2 linked regions of the Homo sapiens genome follow. The protein of the gene in region 2 interacts with the protein of the main gene of each other region in a biochemical or structural test. Each region holds a gene or a part of one and is shown on either strand. Other genes may lie near its edges.

The links.
Region 1: of the proteins of ATG4A (region 2) and GABARAPL2, one has a biochemical effect on the other in vitro, tested with the Homo sapiens proteins (one study listed by BioGRID).

What each region holds. Positions count from the first base shown.
Region 1 is NC_000016.10:75,569,242-75,573,158, reverse strand, and holds part of GABARAPL2 (gamma-aminobutyric acid receptor-associated protein-like 2), read right to left. Parts: intron 1-3,917. UniProt on the Homo sapiens protein: Ubiquitin-like modifier involved in intra-Golgi traffic. Modulates intra-Golgi transport through coupling between NSF activity and SNAREs activation. It first stimulates the ATPase activity of NSF which in turn stimulates the association with GOSR1.
Region 2 is NC_000023.11:108,150,775-108,154,691, forward strand, and holds the end of ATG4A (cysteine protease ATG4A), read left to right. Parts: intron 1-1,027; coding exon 1,028-1,084; intron 1,085-2,204; coding exon 2,205-2,313; intron 2,314-2,867; coding exon 2,868-2,938; 3' UTR 2,939-3,897; downstream 3,898-3,917. UniProt on the Homo sapiens protein: Cysteine protease that plays a key role in autophagy by mediating both proteolytic activation and delipidation of ATG8 family proteins.

The sequences.
Region 1 (3,917 bases), on a different chromosome or scaffold from region 2:
GGACACATTCCATAAACCTCTGAGAAGTTAAACTTCCCCCTCAGAATTTGGAGGCCTGAGCTATACACAGCACTGAGCAGGCCACTGCTAGGATGCCTGAGGATCCTGCAGCACAGAGGCAGCTCTAATGCATCTATCCAGCTAAGCTGCACAGGCTTGCTGGATGCCCTGACAACTCGCAAGTAGCACTGCAGCTCCAAGGCTTGCTGCCTAAGTTGCTGGGAGGTGGCTGTAGAGAACACCTGAAGATGGCCTCCAGTCCCTAACACGAATGCACACCCTGTGGCATCAAGTACCACACGCATTCATCTGAGAAAGATGCTGCTCTGAGTACAGAAGCACTGCCACCTTCCAAGCTCTGAGTCTGGCAAAGAAAGAAACGGGTAAAGCCAGTGGTAGATTCAAGCCATGGAGCTAATCTAAGGTGAAGTGGGACCCTGAAGTACTATGTGAAAATGAATTTAAACTGCCCCCTAAAGCCCTCTCCCCAACCCCTCCACTGAATGACACAGATCCAGGTAAAACCACTTCTCCAGTGGAGAAACTGTGCAATAAAAAAAGGAAAGTTGCAGCAAGACCTACATCCAGGAATGGCCATGTGACTCAAGACAGACATCAGTTTATGCTACCAACAGCGCTATGCATTGGGAGAGGCTGACCTAGAACTGTATGGATGCCCAATCCCTAGAGAACCTACGTTCGCCCCAACCAAGGGCAGGTCATGGAGGCTGTGGGGTCTACACCGACTCATGAATTGGCTGGGCTGATGAGCACACCTGGCCACCCATCTGCTTTGGAGTCCACGCGCTTCCACTGGACCTTGGATTATCTCTTCTCCAGCAGGGCAGGATGGGTGGTGGGAGGTGGAAGGGCAGTGACCACTACTGTCAATCCTGGAGAGGCACTGGCTTCACAGTGAAAGTTAATAAGGCCCTGAGGCTCCCCAAGATTCTAAAATAAAAAGATTAACCACTGGTTGTTGTTCCTTTTTTTGTTTTGAGACAGTTTCACTCATGTCACCCAGGCTGGAGTGCAGTGGCGTGATCTTGGCTCACCACAACCTCCTCCTCCCAGCTTCAAGCGATTCTCCTGCCTCAGCCCCCGAGTAGCTGGGATTACCGGCGACCGCCACCACACACGGCCTAGGACAGAACATATTTATCTGATAAAAAGAACAACTAGGCCGGGAGCAGTGGCTCACGCCTGTAATCCCAGCACTTTGGGAGGCCAAGGTCGGCGAATCACCTGAGGTCAGGAGTTAAGAGACCAGCCTGGCCAACATGGTAAAACCCGTCTCTACTAAAAATACAAAAAAAGTAGCCGGGCGTGGTGGCAGTCGCCTGTAATCCCAGCTACTAGGGGGCAGAGGCAGGAGAATCGCTTGAAGCTGGGAGGCAGAGGTTGCAGTGAGCTGAGATCGCGCCACTGCCTGGGCACTCTAGCCTGGGCGACATGAGTGAAACTCCGTCTCCAAAAAAAAAAAAAAAGTCCTGTCCTTAAAGAGGTATTTACCCAGAAATGATCAAAGTGCTTTAAGCACATTTCTAAATAAAGGATGATTAAGTGTGGGGTGAGAAGTCATTAATTGGGCCTGAAGGGTCAGGAATTGGATTTCTGGTTACTCTGTCCTAAAATCCTGACTTGGGTTACTGGTATAATCTGCTTTAGGGTGGATTCTCAGCAGAATGGAAAGGCAAATGGGACTTGGAGAGAAAATGGCCTTGAAGCAGTCTCTGTTGCCCTGAAAATCACTTTTCATTTCCAAAACATCACAACTTCCTTTTACTGAAGATCTCTTTAAGATCCAGAAGCAAATAAACACCATATTCTTAAACAGCACAGGTTTCCCAATGTCAGTTATAATATCTGGCCAGGCATGGTGGGTAACACCCATAATCCCAGCACTCTGGGAGGCCAAAGCAGGAGGATCACCTGTAGCCAGGAGTTTGAGACCAACCTGGTGAGGTAGGAGGACTTCTCAAGCCCAGGAGTTCAAGGCTGCAGTGAGCTATGACTGTGCCACTGCACTCCAGCCAGGGTGACAGAGCAAGACCTTGTCTCAACAACAATAAAAAATAATATCTTAGAGATATTATATTTAATGATATACTCCTGTTTCTATTTTAAACAGGGGATTAACAAGACTCTTATCTATGTTCTAAACAAACAAAGACCAAAGACCATTCACTGCCAGGTCTGAGTTCCCCTCTAACGTCATGACTAGGAAACTTGTACACTGATGTTTTTTCTGAAGTTCTGTCTGAACAAAGGCATGGTTCCCCATTCCGTTTTTGGCCTGATTCTTGATGCTGGCACCTAGGCAGAGAATTCAACTTTCCAATGCTAAATGGGAAAAGGCCATTGTGATTCCCTCTTTTTTAAATGAAACAAGAACTTAGAATTTAGGAAGTAAAACTTAGGGACTTGCCTCTGTCTCTATTTATAGAATCAATATTTAATACTAACTACTCTAAATAAAAATCATGACACTTTACATGGTGACCGCCTGTTTTCCACTCCAAGGCAGAAATAACTGAGAACTCACTCCCCTTCAGCCTCAGACATAATTGATCTTCATGCAGACCAGTCAGTCACCGGAGAGGGAGGGCTCCTGCAGGCCTGAATTCGTCCCTTCTCTAATTTCCCCAGCCACTCTTTGAAGCCAGCAAGCACTGCATGAAGGTTAAGGGAGGCTCCATGCTCCCCTAAGGAAGCTGAAAAGACCTGAGGAAGAGGCTGCTAAATTGTCTTGGGGAAGAGATGGTGAAGCTGAATCACAGCCAGCTTTAGGAAGGACCCTGTAGCACTTTTTATGTTTATGGGTGATTTATATATTGCATAAAGCCCAATGATGTCACACGCCTCTTATGTTTAGAAACAAATTTATATTTTTAGCCCGGTGTGGTGACATGCACCTGTGGTCCTGTCCCAGTTATTAGGGAGGCTGAGGTGAGAGGATCACTTGAACCTAGGAGGCAGAGATTGTAGTGAGCTCAGATTGCACCACTGCACTGCAATCTGGGCAACAGAGTGAGACTCTGTCTCAAAAAAAAAATTACTTCTGAGAATAAAACCCCAAAATAAACAGTTGCATTAAGTGTAGGGTGATAAGTCATTAACTGGGGCCAAAGAGCTGACAGCCTGGGCAAAAGGGCCCTAGCTGGTGACTCTAAATCCTGAAGGGTCAGGAGCTGGATTTCTGGCTACTCGGCCCTAAAATCCTGACTTGAGTTACCAGTGTAATCTGCTTTAGGGTTGATTCTCACCACACTGGAAAGGCAAATGGGACTTGGAGAGAAAATGGCTTGAAACAGTCTCTGCTGCCCTGAAAAATCATTTTTCATTTCCAATTCTATTTCTATCTCAGGGATAACGGGGGAGGGGAAGTTGATAAGACCTGTAGCCATTTTAATTGCTAGATTACTGTGGAGCCATCTGAGTAATCTTAAGGTCTCCAGAAGCCTGCTTCATTTCCTTTGAGAAGAACCAGAGAATCAGAATTGAGGAAAATAAACTCAATGCCATAGGTCCTAGTCACTTATTTTCTCCCACTAAGCCAACACCTCCAGGAAGTACAAAACACAGAGTCACCAAGGCTCTGTAGAAGTTGCAGATGTTATGAAAGAAGATTACCTCCCCAAACACGTTAAGGAAAGCCCAGGGTAACCACGGATGCCCAAGGCTTCCTCCCCTGGTGAAGACACAGCCCAGAGGCCTGGGAAGGAAGGTTAGAAGAGCCCCATGGGTGACAAGATCTCCTCAAGCAACACCACAGCTTCCAGAGCTACAGCTGTGGCAGACCAATGGCGTCCAGTGGGCAGGCCCTGGGGTGTCTCCTCAGGTTGAATACTGGCCTTAGGGAAGGAGCTTCCATTTCTCCCCTGCCTTTCTATCAGACACCAGGAAGTAGAGGTGGA
Region 2 (3,917 bases):
ACCTGGTCCCACCCTTGACACGTGGGGATTATTACAATTCAAGATGAGATTTGGGTGAGGACACCACCAAACCGTATCACTAACTACGCACTTAGGAGGAGTCACTTAATCTTTCTGAGCCTCAGTCTTCTCATCTCTAAAATGAGGAAAACAATAGTTCGTTCCTTATGGGGTTGTATGAGGTGCAATGCATGTAAGGCACTTAGCACTGGGCCTGGCACATTGTAAGCATTCTATAAATGTTAGTTACTCTTTCCCCTGTTTCCTTCTTGTCCTCAAATTATTGCTACCCAGGCACAGGGAGGAAGATGGGATATCACTAGGGAGAGATAAGGGAGCAAGATGCCCTGGGTGCACACAATCTAGGAAGCTGCAGGATTTTCCCCCAGAAGTATGGCTGGTGTCTACACACACTGAAGGGGCATCTGCCTGTGAAGTAGCTGGTGGTTCTGAGGCCTGTCTGCATCCTCTCCTCTAGTTTAATCCAATTGTCAGTATACCAGTGACCAGGAGCTGCAAGTCCTCCTCTTGTGAACCATTCTTTCACTACTCTGGGATGGATTTGAGGTTGAGAAAGCACAGACTGATGGTTCTCTCTATTCTGATAGATAATTTCCTGAAGGTCAATGCCATCTTCTTAAGTATTGCCTCTAGCTAAAAGTACCATTTGGCTTTTGTTTGTTGGCTTAATTGAATGTTCTTTGGAGATGTGTGTATTTGTACACTGAAAGTAATGGAATTAACCCTACACTTTGAAGATGATCTTCAAGTTAAAATATCTCGCAGCATGAGGAAAGAGGGAAAGGGACAGAGAGCAAGGGTGAGAATGAGAGCAAGACTGAGAGAGTGATATGTATGTCTGAGTAAGGCAATGAGTTAGGAGAGAGAGAAGCCCAGGCAGTCTTCCTTCTTTATTGCTGAGAAGTCACATCCACAGAGACTGGCCCACATCCTAATTCTGGGCCAACAGCTCCATTGTGCAATACCAAAGGTAATTCTAAGTTGTGTTCTTTTGCTTTCCCCCAAGGGATTTTTCTGCAAAGAAGAAAAAGACTTTGATAACTGGTGTAGCCTTGTTCAGAAGGTAAAGCTATATGTTTTTCTTAGTCTGAAAAATGAAGTTACCCAATTTTATTCCTTTTCAAGATTGTTTTTCATAGTAAAAAAAAATCCTACTCTGATACGACTTTACTGCAAGAGAAAGAAACTAAGGCAACAAAGAAACTATCAGGTGTGGGGAATTGTGCATAACTTCGGGGAAACTGAACAAAAATTTTGGTTTGAAATATGCTTAGCATGTCAAGGGAGTGATATTTTTAGTGATGAAACCTAATGTTTTATCTCATTAATAGACAATTATTTTCTAAAGGCAATACTTACATTTTAGAATGCAGCAAAACTGTATTTATGTCACATTTAAAGGTGGAATGAGAATTTTCTGATAAGACTATGCCTTTTATTTTATTTTATTATTTTTTGAGACAAAGGCTCGCTCCGTCACCCAGGCTGGAGTGCAGTGGCGGGATCTGGGTGCACTGCAACCTCCGTCTCCAGGTTCAAGCGATTCTCCTCCCTCAGCCTCCCGAGTAGCTGGGATTACAGGCGCCCACCACCACGCCCAGCTAATTTTTGTATTTTTAGTAGAGACAGGGTTTCACCACATTGGCCAGGCTGGTCTTGAACTGACCACAGGTGATCTGCCCACCTCGGCCTCCCAAAGTGCTGGGATTACAGGCATGAGTCACCGTGCCCAGCTAAGACTATGCCATGTAAATTAGGATATATACCATACATGTTGGACTGCCACTGAAACCATGCCAATATGTAGCAATAGTCTCTTGGGGCAGATTTAATTTCACTAACTGACATTTCTTTGGAGCCAGTGCTTCAGGAACATGTCACCCCTAAAGTGAGCTGGACCCATGCGTCTGGCACAGGCACTATGCCTCATGATGGAGAATAGGCAGTGAGTGCTGGCCTTCATCAGATACTCCCCGCAAAGTCCTTCCTTCCTGGCTAAACAGTATCTAGAATTGAAGATGGCTGAGTCTTCAGATGGTTCAAGTAGAGGATGCATGTATTTTCTAGGCCCCTGTTTTCACCTGGAAACCAGCAGACCACTGTCTCAGGGTTTGGGGTCAAAGATTGCCAATTAGAAATGTTGTGACTCTGAAGTATTTAAAACTGTTTTGTCATCTCCCCAGGAAATTCTAAAGGAGAATTTAAGGATGTTTGAATTAGTTCAGAAACATCCATCACACTGGCCTCCCTTTGTACCTCCAGCCAAGCCAGAAGTGACAACCACTGGGGCAGGTAAGCTGTTGTTCAATGGCTCTCAGCTAGCAGACCCACATATAGCAGTTGTTTTATGAGAAAGAAGAATTGTGGCCCATGCTTTCTGTGGACAGTAAAATTTCTACTCAGCTGGAGTGATAAAAAAATGGCACTTCTGGTTATTTTAATCTTCTGATGAGCTGATATTTACCAATTTCAAAGAATGATAATAGAAGAAAATGAGCTCATTGCAAAAGTTCTATGCAAAATCAAGATGACTAGGATTGCTTTTTCATGGTCTGGTTCAGAATAGCAAATTGAGGCCATCGATAATTCAAAGGTATCTTGAAGGGCTTTCAGAGCCTTGGCCACATCACCGTCGTTAGGTTTATGTAACAAGTCTGGCTATTTTGAGTCTTTATAGATAATTTCTAATACTTGGCAGTAGTTCTAATTGTAAGTCTCCTCCACACAAGTCTTTCTTTAGTACAGCAATTAAAAATGCTTAGTCTTAACTACTGAGTAAAGTATTTACTGACCACTTCAACCCAAGTGTCAAGCTTTTCTTCTTTCTCATTTCCGTATTCTGATAGAATTCATTGACTCTACTGAGCAACTGGAGGAGTTTGATCTGGAGGAAGATTTTGAGATTCTGAGTGTGTAGAATCCTGGGAACTCAACTTGAAGGTCTGTCTTCCATCTGGCACCATAAAAACATGAACTTATTGCATAAAACTTTTCTAGTCAGCAAGTGCCTGATATGCCAATAGCATACAAACTCAATAGCAATCATGACTGAGCCAATCACTGTTTCTCAGAAAAACAAAACAAAACAAAACAAATGACAGTAACCCTTCCCCGGAAAGAAATAGAACAATCATGGAGCCTAGGAGCAGAGAGATGAGGAGGAGTTCATTGCTTCCCAGCTTGTGTTATATGGCTACAGCAAGTCTTCAGCTGCTGCAATGAGGAAATGGGCATCTGGAAGACAAACAGCAACTCTCAGCTTGCTTCAAGAACCAGCAGATAAGAGATGGTTAAGCTGTTCTTCACCCTTTCAGATGTGACCTCTTTTGGACTAAGCAGCAATCTGTTCTCTTGCTCAAATAATAAAGTGACTGAATCAGGGAGGAAAAGGTTCTTGTTAAATTATTTGATTGTGTAGTTGAAGTAATTATAATTTATATCAAAACGTTTGTCAAAGAAACGATGTCAAATATACACTTCTTGATCTCCCTTCTGTTTGCGGGGATCTTACTATTTGATGGGTCACTGTCCCCATTCTTACTGATACTTTTGTCAGATATCACCCTGTCCTTAAATCATGATCACTTAAATCAGGGGTCAGCAAACTTTTTCTGTAAAGGGCCAGACGGGAAATATTTTGGGCTTTGCAGGCCATGCGGCCTCTGTCACATCTACTCAACTCTGCTGTTGACATGCAAAAGCAGCAATAGACAATATGCGTGTAAATGAGTGTGGCTGTAATCCAAGAAAACTTTATTTACAAAAGCAGGTGGAGGGCTGGGTTTGGCCTGCAGGCTGTAGCTTGCCAATCAGTGACTTAAATTGTTGATTTTTGTTTGATAAATTAAAAATAAATTGTGTTTGAAGTATACCCTACTTGGTTGACAGCCATATTT